Linked DNA regions of Homo sapiens: region 1 is linked to region 2. The links come from fine-mapping of genetic effects on gene expression. A gene starts in region 2. The other region holds a variant in brackets. All regions are shown on one strand. Distances are between the middles of the regions. Region 1 has its middle 17 kb from the start of VWF. Region 2 holds the start of CD9 (CD9 molecule).

Region 1 (8,326 bases), 59 kb before region 2:
TGGTCTCAAACTCCTGGCCTCAAGTGATCTGCCCACTTCGGCCTCCCAAAGTGCTGGGATTACAGGCGTGAGCCACCACACCCCGCCTAAGGATCTAGTAATCTAGGGTGATCTATCTTGACATCCTTAATTACATCTGCAAAAAGCCTTTTTCCAAGTAAGGTCACATTCACAGGGTCCAGGAGTTAGAATGTGGACATGTCTTTTGGGGGTCACCATTCAATCCACTGTACCTTCTAACAACCGTTTGAGGGAAAGAGAGCGTTACTCTCATTTTATAGTTGAGGATGCTGAGGCTCAGACAGGGTAAGGGCCTTGCCTAGGATCACACTGCTACCAAAGGCAGCCAGCATCTGAATCTACCTGATTACAAAGTCCGTGTTTTCTCCACTATACCTATAACTCTTCCATAAGCCTTTTCTCCTTTCCTCCCACCCTTCACCCCCGCTTTTCCTGCCTTTGAACCACCTCTGGGTGCTTCTGTGGCCCTCTCATCTTTTCATGCATTTTTCTTTTTTTTGAGACGGAGTCTCGCTCTGTTGCCCAGGCTGGAGTGCAATGGCGCGATCTTGGTTCACTGCAACCTCTGCCTCCCTGGTTCACGCCATTCTCCCACCTCAGCCTCCCGAGTAGCTGGGACTACAGACGCCCACCGCCACACTCAGCTAATTTTTTGTTTTTATATTTTTAGTAGAGACGAGGTTTCACCGTGTTACCAGGATGGTCTTGATCTCCTGACCTCGTGATCTGCCCGCCTCGTCCTCCCAAAGTGTTAGGATTATGGGCATGAGCCACCGCTCCCAGCCTTTTCATGCATTTTTGTTTGTCTTATCTCCTCCAGTCTGAGCTCTCCTTAGAACAAGACCTTGCCTTACTCATCTCTGTATCTTCCAAAGTGCTCTGTCTGGAGCATAGCACATGGTAAGTGCTCCATAAATGTCTGTTGAACTCCCTGCTAGTAGAACAATGATGTGGGTTAATTAGCATATAATATTAAAATGTAGCTACAGAACTGAAACTGCAGATAAAAAAAATTGCTTAATACCCAAGGAAGTTGTTGCCTGCTCTCCAAATCATCAGCACAGAAGATAGCACTCGTCACTGTGGTTGGGGAAATTGCACGGTGAAAGTCACAGGATGGCTCTGCAAGGGGGCAGGGACATCAGACTGGGGTCACGTTCCCATGTGGTATTCTGCGCCTGTAACTCATATGACACTCTGGCACTATTTCTAAATAACACTCAAGTGTCTGTTTTATCAGAGTATAACACACTTGGCTGGAATAGTTCACTTACTGATATTCCACAATTTATGTAACCAGTTCCATATTATGGGATATTTATTTAGGTTAGTGCTACTTTTTTTTTTTTTTTTTTTTTTTTGAGATGCAGTCTCGCTCTGTCACCCAGGCTGGAGTGCAGTGGCGCAATCTCGGCTCACTGCAAGCTCCACCTCCTGGGTTCATGCCATTCTCCTGCCTCAGCCTCCCGAGTAGCTGGGACTACAGGCACCCGCCACTACACCCGGCTAATTTTTTGTATTTTTAGTAGAGACAGGGTTTCACCGCGTTAACCAGGATGGCCTCAATCTCCTGACCTCGTGATCCGCCCGCCTCTGCCTCCCAAAGTGCTGGGATTACAGGCGTGAGCCACCACTCCCGGCCTACTTTTTTTTTTTTTTAATTAACAATGCTGCAGTGAACATCTTTGAAGCTATATCCATGCACAACCCTCAGGATTACTCCCACAGGATGAAATCCTACATGTGGAGCACTGGGTCAGCCACCGTCCACATTTTCAGTGAGGCCTTTGACAATAAGGCCAAATGGCCCCCCTGAAAAATTGCAATGGTTTATAATGGTTGCAATGGTTTAATTACCCATTTGCTGAGTAGGATTTTGCCAGGTGAAAATGAGGGCAAAGGCACATCAGCTGCAAGGAAGGAAGTAAAAGCTTAGAAGCAGGCAAGCTCTGAGATGCTAAATCAGTAAGTAGGTGAATAAGCCAGTTGTTACAGCCTATAAAGGAGACTCACAGGAAAAGAGACCAAAGAGAGGAATAAGAGGCAAGTCCTCAGGGACCTTCAACCAGTGTAGGGGTTTATGTTCATCCTGTGACACCAGATGAGGCCCTCTGGCAGCAGTGGCATGTATTGTGAGAGGTCAGATGGAGAAAGGGAGATCCATTAGTGGTTGGTGGAACCTTCCCGGACAGGGAAGACGAGGGCCTGGAGGAGACCATGGGTTTGACAAGAGAAGAGCAGATACAGCCAACCACGTAACACATTACGGTAGCAGAAGAACAGCCAAAGATGTCTACATCCCATCTCAAACCTCTGAATGCTACCTTACATGGCAAAAGGGATTTTGCAGATGTGAGCAAGTTAAGGGTCTTGAGATGGGGAGATGATCCTGGCTTACCCCAGAGTATCCTGCTGGGCCGATATAATCACAAGAGTTTTTATAAGAGGAGCAGGAGGGTCAGCATCAGGGAAGGAGATGTGATGATGCGAGCAGAGGTCATGCAACGCGGGGCCACGAGGCAAGGAATGTGTGCCCCTGGAAGTGGATAGAGGCGAAGAACAGGTTCTCCCATAGAACCTACAGAAGGAATCCAGCTCTTCCAACACACCTTGATTTTGATCCAATTCGAGCTTCTTACAATTACGAATTGTAAGATAAATTTGTGTTGTTTCAGGCCACTAAGCTTGTGGTCATTTGTCACTGCAGCAATAGAAAACTAATATAGGCCAAGATATCATGCCACACAACCTGCTCCCTTGCCCTCATGGAGGGTGTCCCAAGGCAGCTTTGCCAAATAAGTTAGAGGACAATTAGTGCTGTGAGGCTCAAGGAAGAAGGATCCCTGAGGACCACAGTATGAGAGCCATTAGAACTTGGGCTGATGTAAACAGCATTAAGTACAAATGGGAAGGGTGCGTGACCTCTGGGGGCGCATGGGGCAGGGCTGCTCAGAGGCAGGGGGATGGGTAAATTGACCTCTGCCTGTCTGAGGAGTAAGTTCTCCAGGTAACTAGTACAAAAGCAAAAGAACCTCAGGGGAGGAAAGGTTTTCTAGGAGGACCCATCTTTGTCTTTTCTTTGTATATTTGTAGCATCTCTCTTACGTAAATTCTGCAGGAAAGAGAATTTTCTTGGCAGTATGCGCCAAATAAATAAACACAGCAGTATTTCTTAGGCCAGACGACCAGCTCCCAGCATAAAGCTGTAGCCCCCAGCGGAGAGGAAGCTGTCCTCCTCTACTTCCTCTCTTCTAAAGACAAACATCTTGTGCAAGAATAACATGCTCACTTCCTTCACAATCATCAAAATAGAGAGGACCCACCCACGCTACAATGTCAGAAGAATGGTGCAGCTTCAGACTCATCTTCCCTGGTTCTCAGGAACAATGACACCACATTATTGCTGCTATCGAGCTACAGAGAACTCAGACCATTACATCTGGTGGCATTCCTGGCCCCAGTAGTAGCACAGCAGGATTCCTGACCCCAGAATCACTATCTCAAGACCTGGGGTTCTAATTTGAGAGGCAGAAAGTTACAGCAACTCAAATTTATATGCATCTTACAAAATAGCTTCAAAATACATAAATTGACAATTGACTTCAAAAAGGCTTTCTCAATTATCCATAGGTCAGGCAGATAAAAATCAGTAAAGATAGAAATTTTAAAAACAATGATCAGCCTAGGCAACAAAGTGAGACCTCATGTCTACAAAAAAAAGAAAAAATTAGCCAGGTGTAGTGGCACACATCTGTCATCTTAGCTATTCAGGAGGCTCAGGCAGGAGGATTGCTTGAGCCCCGAAGTTCCAGGCTGCAGTGAGCTATGATTGCACTGATGCAGGGCAAGTAAGCTCCCAAATTGGGACTTAGCCCTGGAAGATTCTTGGCTTTGCTCAGGAAAGAATTCAAGAGCCAGCTGGTGGTAGAAGAAAACAGCTTTATGGAGGCAGCAGTGTGACAACTTTATGACTACTCCTGCAGAGCAGGGCTAACCCCTAGGCAATGTGTTGAGAGCACCAGCTCAGGGGCAGGTCAACAGTCATACATATACCCACTTTCAATTACTTGCAAGTTAAGGTATTGAGAGGTGACAGCGTGCTGGCAGTCCTCAGAGCCCTTGCTTGCTCTCAGCACCTCCCCTGCCTGGGCTCCCACTTTGGCGGCATTTGAGGAGCCCTTCAGCCCCCCACTGCACTGTGGGAGCCACTTTCTGGGCTGGCCAAGGCTGGAGCCCGCTCCCTCAGCTTGCAGGGAGGTGTGGAGGGAGAGGCGCGAGCAGGAAGCAGGGCTGCGTGCCGCGCTTGCGAGTCAGCTGGAGTTCCGGGTGGGCGTGGGCTTGGCGGGCCCCACACTCAGAGCAGCCGGCCAGCCCTGCTGGCCCCGGGCAATGAGGGACTTAGCACCCGGGCCAGCAGCTGTGGAGGGTGTACTGGGTCCCCCAGCAGTGCTGG[C/G]CCACCGGCGCTGCGCTCGATTTCTCGCCGGGCCTTAGCTGCCTTCCCGCGGGGCAGGGCTCGGGACCTGCAGCCTGCCATGCCTGAGCCTCCCACCCACTCCATGGGCTCCCGTGTGGCCCAAGCCTCCCCGACGAGCACCACCCCCTGCTCCACGGCGCCCAGTCCCATCGACCACCCAAGAGCTGAGGAATGAGAGCGCACAGCGCGGGACTGGCAGGCAGCTCCACCTGCAGCCCCAGGTGCGGGATCCACTAGGTGAAGCCAGCTGGGCTCCTGAGTCTGGTGGGGACGTGGAGAGTTTTTATATCTAGCTCAGGGATTGTAAACACACCAATCAGCACCCTGTGTCTAGCTCAAGATTTGTGAGTGCACCAATCGACACTCTGTATCTAGCTGCTCTGCTGGGGCCTTGGACAACCTCTGTGTGGAAACTCTGTATCTAACTAATCTGATGGGGACGTGGAGAACCTTTGTATCTAGCTCAAGGATTGTAAACGCACCAATCAGCGCCCTGTTAAAACAGGCCACTCGGCTCTACCAATCAGCAGCATGTGGGTGGGGCCAGATAAGAGAATAAAAGCAGGCTGCCGGAGCCAGCATTGGCAACCCGCTCCGGTCCCCTTCCACAGTGTGAAGGCTTCGTTCTTTTGCTCTTTGCAATAAATCTTGCTATTGCTCACTCTGGGTGCACACTGCTTTTAAGATCTGTAACTCTCACCGTGAAGATCTGCAGCTTCACTCCTGAGGCCAGCAAAACCACGAGCCCACCGGGAGGAACGAACAACTCCAGATGCACTGCCTTAAGAGTGGTAACGCCCACCGCAAAGGTCTGCAGCTTCAATCCTGAGCCAGGGAGATCATGAACCCACCAGAAGGAAGAAACTCTGAACACATCTGAAAGTCAGAAGACACAGACTCCAGATGTGCCACTTTAAGAGCTGTTAACTACGAGGGTCTGTGGCTTCATTCTTGAAGTCAGTGAGACCAAGAACCCACCAATTCCAGACGCAGTATGGGTTATTCAGAAATTTCTAGAAAAATGGTGGTAACTTTCACGTGGTTGCCATGAAAAGAGGTGGTAACTTCTGTGTGTTGCCATGGCAATGGTAAACTGACATGGAATTGGTTGTCAGGTCTTTCCCCCCCCCCCCCCCCCCCAGCTGGAGTCTTGCTCTGTCTCATAGGCTAGAGTGCAATGGTGCAATCTCAGCTCACTGCAACATCTGTCTCCCAGGTTCAAGTGATTCTCTGGCCTCGGCCTCCTGAGTAGCTGGGATTACAGGTGCCCACCACCACGCCCTACTAATTTTTGTATTTTTAGTAGAGATGGGGTTTCACCATGTTGGCCAGGCTGGTCTCAAACTCTTGACCTCAAGTGGTCCGCCCACCTCTACCTCCCAAAGTGCTACGATTACAGGCGGGAGCCACCATGCCCAGCCAACTGGTGGGCATGTCATGGAGAGGTGTTTTCCCCGCCTCTTCCCTGTTTCAGCCAATCTTCAATCTGGTCCAGAGTAAGATCCTGCCTCCTACCTCAGCACCACTGCATTCCAGCCTGGACAACAGAGTAAGACCCTGTCTCAAAAAGCAAACAAACGGGCTGGCCCGGTGGCTCACACCTGTAATCCCAGCACTTTGGCAGGCCGAGGTGGGCGGATCACTTGAGGTCAGGAGTTCGAGACAAGCCTGGCCAACATGGTAAAACCCCATCTCTACTAAAAATACAAAAAAAAAAAAATTAGCTAGGCATTTTGGCGTGCACCTGTAATCCCAGCTACTTGGGAGGCTGAGGAAGGAGAACTGCTTGAACCTGGGAGGCGGAGGTTGCAGTGAGCCAAGATAGTGCCACTACACTCCAGAACGGGTGACTGAGTGAGACTCTGTCTCAAACAAAAACAAAAAACAATGGTTAAACCCTATTATTGCATTTTTGGGCATTTATGCCAGAGAAATCTAAATAGTTTCATGTTAAATATTGTACGTGAATGTTCACAGAAGGTTTTTTTTTTTTTTTTTGAGAGAGAATCTCGCTCTGTCACCCAGGCTGGAGTGCAGTGGCGCGATCTCGGTTCATGCCATTCTCCTGCCTCAGCCTCCTGCGTAGCTGGGACTACAGGCACCCGCCACCACCATGCCCGGCTAATTTTTTGTATTTTTAGTAGACACGGGTTTTCACCGTGTTAGCCAGGATGGTCTCGATCTCCTAGCCTCGTGATCCGCCCGCCTCGGCCTCTCAAAGTGTTGGGATTACAGGCGTGAGCCACCGCGCCCGGCCAAATGTTCACAGAAGCTTTATTTGCAATGACAAAAACTGGAAGAGGCTGGGCGCGGTGGCTCATGCTTGTAATCCCAGCACTTTGGGAGGCCGAGGCGGGCGGGTCACGAGGTCAGGAAATCCAGACCATTCTGGCTAACACGGTGAAACCCCGTCTCTACTAAAACTATAAAAAATTAGCTGGGCGTGGTGGCGGGCGCCTGTAGTCCCAGCTACTCGGGAGGCTGAGGCAGGAGAATGGCGTGAACCCGGGAGGCGGAGCTTGCAGTGAGCCGAGATCGCGTCACTGCACTCCAGCCTGGGCGACAGACGGAGACTCCGTCTCAAAAAAAAAAAAAGAGAACAAATTACTGATACACGCAACGTGGATGAATCTCCAGGGAATTATGCTGAGTGAAAAACAGCCAATCCCCAAAGGTTATATCCTGTATAATTTCATTTATATAAATTACAGAAATGGAGAACAGATTAGGGCTAGGGACAGGGGAGAGGCTGAGGGACTATGAGAGGAGTGTGGTTGTGTTTATAATGAAACCGACCCAATCATCCCATAGATAGGTTTTTTTTTTTTTTTTGGATAAGCATCGAAATTGACTTTTCTAGTCTTTGTTTTCTAGTCTTTTTTTTTTTTTTTTTTTCTTTTTTTGAGACGGAGTCTCGCTCTGTCGCCCAGGCTGGAGGGCAGAGGCGCGATCTCAGCTCACTGCAAGCTCCGCCTCCCGGGTTCACGCCATTCTCCTGCCTCAGCCTCCCGAGTAGCTGGGATTACAGGCGCCTGCCACCACGCCCGGGTAATTGTTTGTATTTTTAGTAGAGATGGGGTTTCACCGTCTTTGCCAGGGTGGTCTCGATCCCTGACCTCGTGATCCTCCTGCCTCGGCCTCCCAAAGTGCTGGGATTACAGGCGTGAGCCACCGCGCCCGGCCTTTTTTCTAGTCTTAAAGCCACCACGCCCGGCCTTTTTTCTAGTCTTAAAGCTTGAAAAACTTAATTTGTTTTATCTGAGTTCCCTCCTCAGGAAAAGACCTTCAGGCCTCTAAAAAAAAGTATCAAAGAACTGAAACTCACCAGATCACCACATCCAGACAAGGAAATGCCCAGACCCCTCATTCATCATGATTGTTTCCTTGCCCCTCCCTAGTTCCTGTTTTCGTAGGCATTGTTACATTTCTTCCCTGCTACATAAACCCTTACTTTTTGTAGGTCAGGGAGATGGGTTTGAGACTGGGCTCCCATCTCCACTCCTCAGCTGCAGGATTAAAGATTTTTTTCTGGCCAGGTGCAGCGGCTCATGCCTCTAATCCCAACACTTTGGGAGGCTGAGGCAGGCAGATCACCTGAGGTCAGGAGTTCGAGACCAGCCTGACCATCATGGAGAAACCTCGTCTCTACTAAAAATACAAAATTAGCCGGGCATGGTGGAGATGCCTATAATCCCAGCTACTCAGGAGGCTGAGGCAGGAGAATTGCTGGAACCCGGGAGGCAGAAGTTGCGGTGAAGCGAGGTCACGCCACCGCACTCCAGCCTGGGCAACAGAAAGAGACTCACTCTCAAATAAATACATACAGACAGA
Region 2 (8,326 bases):
TGAGACGGAGTCTGGCTGTGTCCCCCAGGCTGGAGGGCAGTGGCGCGATCTCGGCTCACTGCAAGCTCTGCCTCCCGGGTTCACGCCATTCTCCTGCCTCAGCCTCCTGAGTAGCTGGGACTACAGGCGCCCGCCGCCACGCCCGGCTAATTTTTTTGTATTTTTAGTAGAGACGAGGTTTCACCGTGTTAGCCAGGATGGTCTTGATCTCCTGACCTCATGATCCTCCCGCGTCGGCCTCCTAAAGTGCTTGGATCACAGGTGTGAGTCACAGCGCCCAACAAGAAGTGCATAGCTTTTTTTGTTTTTTCTTTTTGAGACGGAGTCTCACTCTGTCGCCAGGCTAGAGTGCTGTGGCGCGATCTCGGCTCACTGCAACCTCCAACTCCCTGGTTCAAGGGATTCTCCTGCCTCTGCCTCCCGAGTAGCTGGGATTATAGGTATGCGCCACCATGCCTGGCTAATTTTTGTATTTTTAGTAGAGATGCGGTTTCACTATGTTGGCCAGGATGGTCTCGATCTCCTCACCTCGTGATCCGCCCACCTTGGCCTCCCAAAGTGCTGGGATTACAGGCGTGAGCCACTGCGCCCGGCCGAGAAGTGCATAGCTTTTTAAAAAATCTTTGTAGCTATCTTATTTAGGAATGGGAGGCAGGTTTGCCTGTGGCAGTTCCCAGCTTGATTTTTTCCTTTGGCTTATTGATTTTGGGGTCCTAAGATTTATTTTCCTTTCACAATACTCTTGTACAGGTGAGGAGACTGAGGCCCAGAGAGGAGGCTGCCTGCCTAACATAGACCAAAGGGTCAGAACCAAGAGTAGAACTCAGACCCCCTCACTTCAGGCCCAATGCTCTCATCACATAAAAAGGATGCCTTGATTATACGAATGTGGCACTGAACTATATAGGCTGACCCCAATTCTTTCTTCAGTGTAAACAATAATAGGAATAGGAGCAACAGGCAGCGTTTCTGCAGCGCTTCTGTGGCAGGCAGGTTCTAAGGCCTCCCTGTGGATTTCCTCTGTCAACACTCACGTTTACCCTAATAAGTAATTTCTATTATAAACTTAAATATTTACTGAACTCCTCCCACCAGTACTTGTTAACTTGGGAGAAGGGGGAGATGCAATAAAATCTTTCTTTTCCTAAGACCTGTCTCCCAAGATAGATGGACGCAGGCCCAAAAGGGCACAATGGAACACTGACTGTTTTCCGGCCTCCTTCCCACCCTCCAGGGTGCTTCACACTCCTCCCCTGTGCTGGAATCATCCTGGACACTGGTTAGGATGTGTAAAGTCAAGCATCACCAAAATTCCTCTGCTTGTCCTCTTGGCATTAGGCTCAGTTTAGGCCCTGCCTCTCCTTCCTTGTCCTCCTTCCTCCCCATGTACCACTATCGGTTGTTTCCCCAGTGCAGCCAGCTGCCCGCTTCTGTGTCTTTGCATATCCAGTTCCCTCTTGGAATTCCCTCCTCCGCATTGACTACTGACTCCACCTTCCCAAGTCAAGTCAGCTGCTGCAATGTCCCCTGCTCTGGGGAGCCTCTCGGACTCAGATTGACGTGGGGATGTGCCCTGTGCCCCTACTTGTTACTAGCTTCTGCTGCTCTGCCTCTGATCTCTCCCTCCCCTTCCCGGCCTGACACCTCATGGGGTTTTGCCCTGCCTTCTCTAGGCTTTATCCCATTGCCCCGCCTTCATTCATTCTTCTCTCACCTGAACTACTCCACAGCCTCCTAGCAGATTTGCACCTGGTCCTCAGCTCAACTTTCATCTACCACTGCTCCCCTCATATTACCTGATTGCGTCTCCCCAAATACAACATCTCCATGTTCCATGCAATCCCGTAAAGCACTGAGCCAAGGACTGGAGATGCCAACAATGGTCCTGGTCCTCAAGGGGCTTCCTACCTGCCCCTCCGGCCTTCCCCCACCCAACTACCTAAAACACAGGCAGAGAACCTCTGAAAACACAGCAGATCCAACCATTCCCCTGCTTGAACCTTTCGGTGGCCCCTAATGCTCAGAGTGCAAAGTCCAGGAGCACAAGGCTCTTTCTCACCTTCCCACAAACTACCCCGTGACTCCAGGCTCCAGCCCAGAGCCCGGACAGCCCCTGCCCCAGCCTTTGCCCAGGATTCTCCCTTGGCGGCAACTTTCCCTGTGGTTCTGCAGCATCATCTCCCAGTCTGGGTCAGAGGCCTCTCCTTAGCCTCTTAGCCCCCAAGCCTCTCCCCGTAACTGCACCTATCACCCTCAAACCATTGTCTGGCTGCCTGTCTCCTCCCACACTGGTCCCTGAGCAGAAACAAGGACTAATCCATGTTTTTCAGCTCCTACCCCTAATGAAATACCCTAATAGATACTGAAAAATGTTTTTGAACCAATGAGACAAGTCTACTGATAATAAACAGGCAAATAACAGCAATGTGCTAACAGTGGCTGTTTCTGGTGAGCAGAATTTTGAGGTCTGTTCCTTTCACTTCTTGGTATTTCGGTTGTTTCTGTAATGACTGTATCTTGCTTTTGTAATCATAAAGGACAGTAAAGGAAACTTCATTTTGAAAATAATACAAAGGGATTCGGGGACTTCAAAAGAAGGTGACTCTCCTCGTCCACTCCAGAGAATCAGGAAAGGAGTGTTTAAAGACCCACAGAATTCCTACAAGTGACGTTGGGGGGGGGCCAGCCAGCCAGGGCGCATGCCGGCCAGCGAGTGGGGTGGGCTCTGGGTCCGGGAGAAGTCAGATCAGTGCTCTGTACAGGGCCTTGAGGGCAAGACGAGGAATTTCGACTTAGGTCCTTGAATCTGGAGAGCTACAGAAAGTTTGTGAGCTCAGGAGAAGCGCTCCGAGCTCGGCATCTGGAGCAGTTCAAGGCAGCAGCGAGCAAGTCCAAAGACGCAGGAGGGAGGGTGGGGTGGAGGAGTAGAGAGAAAACAGAAGCCGTCTACAGACCCTTTTTCCCTCTGGGGCAACTAAACCTCAAGTGCAGGAAGCGCTTGGGGACTGCCCAGCCCTCAGCTGTGTTATTATTCGGTGATAGGTATTTGCTAATTACTTCCAAAAGCCTCCCATCTGTCATCCCACCCAGACTGCGCGCTTCTAATTCCTCCTACCCCACATGCTGTGCCCAATGAAAAGTATGGTCAGCGAGCGAAGGTTTGCAAGGAGACAGACGAGGGCGAAATTAAGCCAGGCGGCTTCCCTTTAAATCCTCGCAAAGCAGAAGGGCCCCTCACTCTGGCAGCAGGCCTTGGCCAAGGGGCCTTTAGCCCTGACGACCCGGGGAAGAGTCTCCCAAAGCAGAACGCCCGGTCCGGCGCCCAGACCAAACGCGGGGGAACCGGAAGGGCGAGGCCTCCACGTAAGTCCGCGGTAAAAGTGGCAGGGAGTGGCTGCCTGCAAAGACCCCAAGACGGCTTGAAGAAGGAGTGGGTGGCGGGTGGGGGTTAGGGCGACTAGGCGGGGAAACAGGGAGAGGGTCGGGCTCCGCGGGGCAGCTGGGGCCGGGGCTCGCCGACCTGGGCGGGGGCGGGGGGCGGGGGGGGTGCGGCCCGGGCGGGGCCGGTGGGGCGGGAGGCGTGGCCGGCGGGGGGAGTGGGGGCGGCTTTTCCCGGCACATGCGCACCGCAGCGGGTCGCGCGCCCTAAGGAGTGGCACTTTTTAAAAGTGCAGCCGGAGACCAGCCTACAGCCGCCTGCATCTGTATCCAGCGCCAGGTCCCGCCAGTCCCAGCTGCGCGCGCCCCCCAGTCCCGCACCCGTTCGGCCCAGGCTAAGTTAGCCCTCACCATGCCGGTCAAAGGAGGCACCAAGTGCATCAAATACCTGCTGTTCGGATTTAACTTCATCTTCTGGGTGAGTGAGCGCGACTGCCGCGCGCTCCTCTCAGGGCCCACCTGTTCGCGGGCCCCGGACACTGGCCGCGGCCGCGAGTGCCGGCAGCTGGCACTGCCCGCACCGGGCAGGCACCGGGCGGGAAGAGAGAGCGCCCTGCGGCTGCCAGCTGGCTCCAAGGCCGGGTCCAGAGCCGGGCGGGACGGCCGCGACGGGCGCATTCGGGTGGGGGCTCATCACCGCCCAGCCGGCGTGGGGAGCCGGGCCCTCTTGAGATGAGGCGTGCGGGAGGGTCCTGAGCACTTTAGCTCGCCTAGGATTTGAGCTGGGGTGTGTGTCTGCTCCCAGCTCAAGTCCCTCCGAGTGCCAGAGAGGAAGGCAGGGAGAAGCGGAGCACCCCTCTTTGGGCCAAGGCCAAGGAGGACTGTGGTGAGCAGTATGGCTTGTGACCGGGTGGGGTCTCCCAGGTAGTAGGGGGCGCCAGGAAGGGAGGGTGCGGGCACGGCGAGAGCTCAGCCAAGAGCGGCTCTCACTTTTACGCAGGAGCGGCAGGGGTGCCTCGGCCGCGGGTCCGGCCCCGGGACCCAGTCCCTGAGAGTCGGGGGCCCCTCCACCCTTGAGGAGGAACCTCGCAGGCCCCCGTTCCCTCAGACTTTGATTCTGAGCCACCGTGAGAGCGCCGAACTCCCTGGTAGCTCCCTGAAAGACTAGCTTGTCTTGATTTCTTTCAAGGACGATAAGTATCTTCACTGGAGAGAACTCAGAGTTCGGGAGAGGAGGGGGCAGATACCTATCTGCGCCTCTAGTGGGATGAGTCCTGTGTGTGCATTTCCGGGAGAGATCAGGTGCCAGCCAGCTGCCCGCCCAGGAGAGCCTTGGCCTTGCCCTCTCCCCTCCCCGCCAGCCCAGGCGGCCCACCCAAGGCCAGGCAGGGCGCAGAGCGGACGTTCATCTGGAGAGGCCAGCGGGGCCAGGAGCTCCAGAGACACCTGCTGCAGGCCACTCAGCCTCTACAAATGGGAAGGCTGAGAGGCGACAGAAGCAAGGAATAGGAAACCCTTGTGTCCTTGTTTCTATAGCCACATTCCCTGCACACACATGACAATACTTGCCGCTCTGCAGGCAGGAAGAGAGTCTCTATGCCACTCTCAAGATAGATGGATGTAGAAACAGGTGCATGCCACCAGAGTCTTGTAACAAAAAAGTGCACTTGGCCAGGCACAGTGGCTCATGCCTGTAATCCCAGCACTTTGGGAGGCTGAGGCAGGAGGATCGCTTTCATCCAGGTTCAAGACCAGCCTGGGTAACATAGTGAGACCCCCATCTCCACAAAAAAATAAAAAATTAGCTGGGCGTGTTGGCATGCACCTGTGATCGCAGCTACTCAGGAGGCTGAGATGAGAGGATGGCATGAGCCTGGGAGGTCAAGGCTGCGGTGAGTCATGATTGCACCACTGCACTTAGCCTGGGTGACCTAGTGAGCCCTGTCTCAAAAAAAGTAGAAAAGAAACAAATGCACTTATTCCCCCTGGAGCTGGTCACTGAGGTCCCCACAAGCCTCCTTAGGGAAATCTTCTAAGATTCACTCCTCCCCAGAGCTGAAGGGGTGGTTGAACAGTTTTTCCAATTTGCAGAGACTGACTTCCCCCAGTGCATCAGTCACCATAACACACACCCCAGTGAGGACGGCATATAGGTGTGCTCCTTCCCAACCCTTGACTTGCTTTAAAAAGACCCTGCTGGCCGTGGGCACCCCTCCTCCTGTGTTGCCACCCACCCCAGCAACCACCCAGCTGCCACGCTTAGCTTCTTTCTTTCACCAATCCCTGGCAGCAGAAAAGTATGCGGGAAGGCAGCTGGCCTCACCCACCCTTGAACTTTGGGAGTTTTCCTCTCCCCTCCCAGGTACAGTCTCTCCCGGCTGGTGTGTTGGTTAGTCCTCAGCTGTCTGCCTAGACTGCATCCAGGTTTGGGACTGCAGGGAAACACAGACTGCCACAGTGTGCCTCCCTACCCCCATCTGCCCCATGGCATATGCAGGAAGCTGATGCGAGGCTCACAGGGCCACTGGTATCTACTCTGTCTGTGGCCTGCTGGCCTGCAATCTGTCCGTACTGTCCTCAGCCTGCCACCCCACTCGTATTCAGAACCCCCTATGCCTGGCCCCAGCCTAGGTGCAGCTGATGACCTATGTAGTCTGAAACAGAAATCACTCACACTGGAAATGTTTGGAATGACTTTTGAAGATCATGCAGTCCAGCTCTCTTATTCATAGTGAGGCAGCAGAGGAAGAGAGATGGGGTGATTTACCCAGGATCGCAGAGACAGAGCCAGTATTACAATTCCTGGGGCCCCTACTTTACTTCTGTCCTCTTCCATCTTCATCAGAGGCAGGAAGATGGGCAGTAGCTATGTTTTCCTGAATTACTGTTCATTTGTCCTGTATCTGGGTCCCTGTGGAGATGAAGCCCTCATCCCTAGGAGATGATGTAATGAAAAGGAAGACTGTGGTCGGTCCACTTGTGCAGAGTGTTAGTCTTTAGAGCCTTTCTTGTTCTAGTCCCATGATGTAGCCAAGAGCAGGAAGCATTGTCCCCACTGTACTGATGATCAGGAAACCATTTCCCAGAGAGGTTAGGTGACTTATCCAAGGTGATGCGGCAGGGTGGTCTCAGAACTAGGTTACTTTACCCAACTGGTTTTGGCTGCTGAGTGGGAATGGGAGAAGGGTGGGAAGAAGCTCCCAAGACTCCCTTAAGGAAAGGTGTAACCTAAGGGAACTGCTTGGGTGATTATGTTGTCACCACGTCCGTTTCTCTCTTGAGACCAGACATTTATAAACTTGGCATTCGGAACCTGATGTGGGCCTTGAAAAGCAGGAATTGTGAGGCCAGTGCCCAGCAGCACTTTGCACAGAGGCTGCTGAGAGGGGGTGTCCAACAGGCATCCAGAGAGAGGCCAACCTCAGTGGAGTAGGATGGTTATTGGGGGGCTGTGCCTCTTCCCTGGCCTGATCTCATCCCTGTGGGTCACTCCCTGATGGCCACAGCCAAACCAGCAAATCAGTCTGTTCTTCCACCACCTCCAGAACCGGCCCTCCTAGCTCTATTTTGATTGTTTCTACATTTCCTTCAGACCTCCCTGCCCGCCTGCCCACCCCCCAAAAAACAGTTGAGAGGGAAAACATCTTGCTGATGTCCATGTGGTAGACACACAAGTATTTCTCCAGCTGAAATGGGGAACCAGGGTTAGGGCCAGTCCAGTCTGACACATGCATGTCTGCCCTCTTTCTGGTCAGAGAAGGGGAGGAACTCCTTAGGGCAAAAGAGGGAAAGGTTTGGCTATACTGACAGAGCCCAATCCCCTCCCCACCTCCCTCAGCCCCTTTGCTTACTGTCTCTCATGCCTCGCTCACTGATGGAAACAGCAGTGTGGGGCTGGGAGGTCTCTTTCCCAAGAAACCATATCCCCTAGACCTAGGGGAGGCTGGTGCGAAACACAGAGACCTACACTGGGAATTCAGAGACCTGGATGTGAGCCCAGCTCTGTCCTCAACTCACTTTGAAACCTTGGGTTGGTCACTTCTGTGCTCTAAGCCTCAGTTTCCTCATCTGTAAAACAATAGCTTGGAACAAATGGTCTCAAAAGGTCCTTTCAAGCTCAGTCTATGAACCCAACACCCCTACACATACCACATACAACAATAGAACTCTCCTACACAACCCAAAATAGGAACCAATATTGGGTACGATGTATACTATGTTGGTGATGGTCACATTAAAAGCCCAGACTTCACCATGTGTAACAAAACTACATTCGTGTCCCCTAAATCTATAAATAATAATATAATAAACAAAATACAAGCCCTGAATTGGAAATGGGAGATGGATACCAAGGCTTGAGTCCTCAGAACTTAGCTTTTCTTGGCCTTTACCTCTGGAGCAAGAGCCCAGCTGGTGCTTTTCTTTGCTGTTGCTTCTCAGTTCCCTCTCCTCACCCTGGGTGGGGTCTCTCTCAGGGGTGTTCATTGCCCGTATACCTTAGTACTTGGCCTAGTGATCAAAGCACCAGTCCTGGGTTCCATGTCTCATCACCAGATGGGGCTGGTGACCACCCCACATGGTGCTGTGAGAGTTAAATGGGGAGTATGTGTAGTGCACTTAGCATAGTAGATTGCACCAGACATATCTTCCAACAGTAGCTATTGTTATTCACTAGTGGAGAGTAGAATGAGGCCCTGGGGAGGGTGAGAGCAGTTCTCTAAGAAGTGTGGAAGTCTAAACCGCAGATGTGGCCAGGAGGACCCTCCCAATCCACACACTGGCCTCCCTGCCCCTTCCTGTATCAGTGCCAACTTTGTCCTGTGCATCAAAACCCTGACTCCATTTCATGGGTTGCTACTGCTCATTTGGCTGCGGGAAGGCCCCGCTTCTGAAAATAAAATTGCCTGTCAGAGAAACCCTAAGGATCAGGATTCCGGATCTGGGCAGG

Evidence for each region. PIP is the estimated chance that this variant, and not a neighbour inherited with it, causes the effect.
Region 1: its variant is fine-mapped to the expression of CD9 in whole blood (INTERVAL, PIP above 0.99).

Annotation. Positions count from the first base shown.
Region 1 is chr12:6,137,910-6,146,235 of GRCh38, forward strand. No RefSeq gene overlaps it. Among named protein-coding and RNA genes, the nearest start is that of VWF, 17 kb to the left of the region's middle. RefSeq lists an enhancer at 4,438-4,995. The variant C/G (reference allele first, on the strand shown) is at 4,475.
Region 2 is chr12:6,196,710-6,205,035 of GRCh38, forward strand. CD9 (CD9 molecule) reads left to right here and starts at 3,691. Exons shown (of 8, transcript NM_001769.4): 1 at 3,691-3,856. The coding sequence starts at 3,791. RefSeq lists enhancers at 2,563-3,175, 3,176-3,787, 5,014-5,626, 5,627-6,238.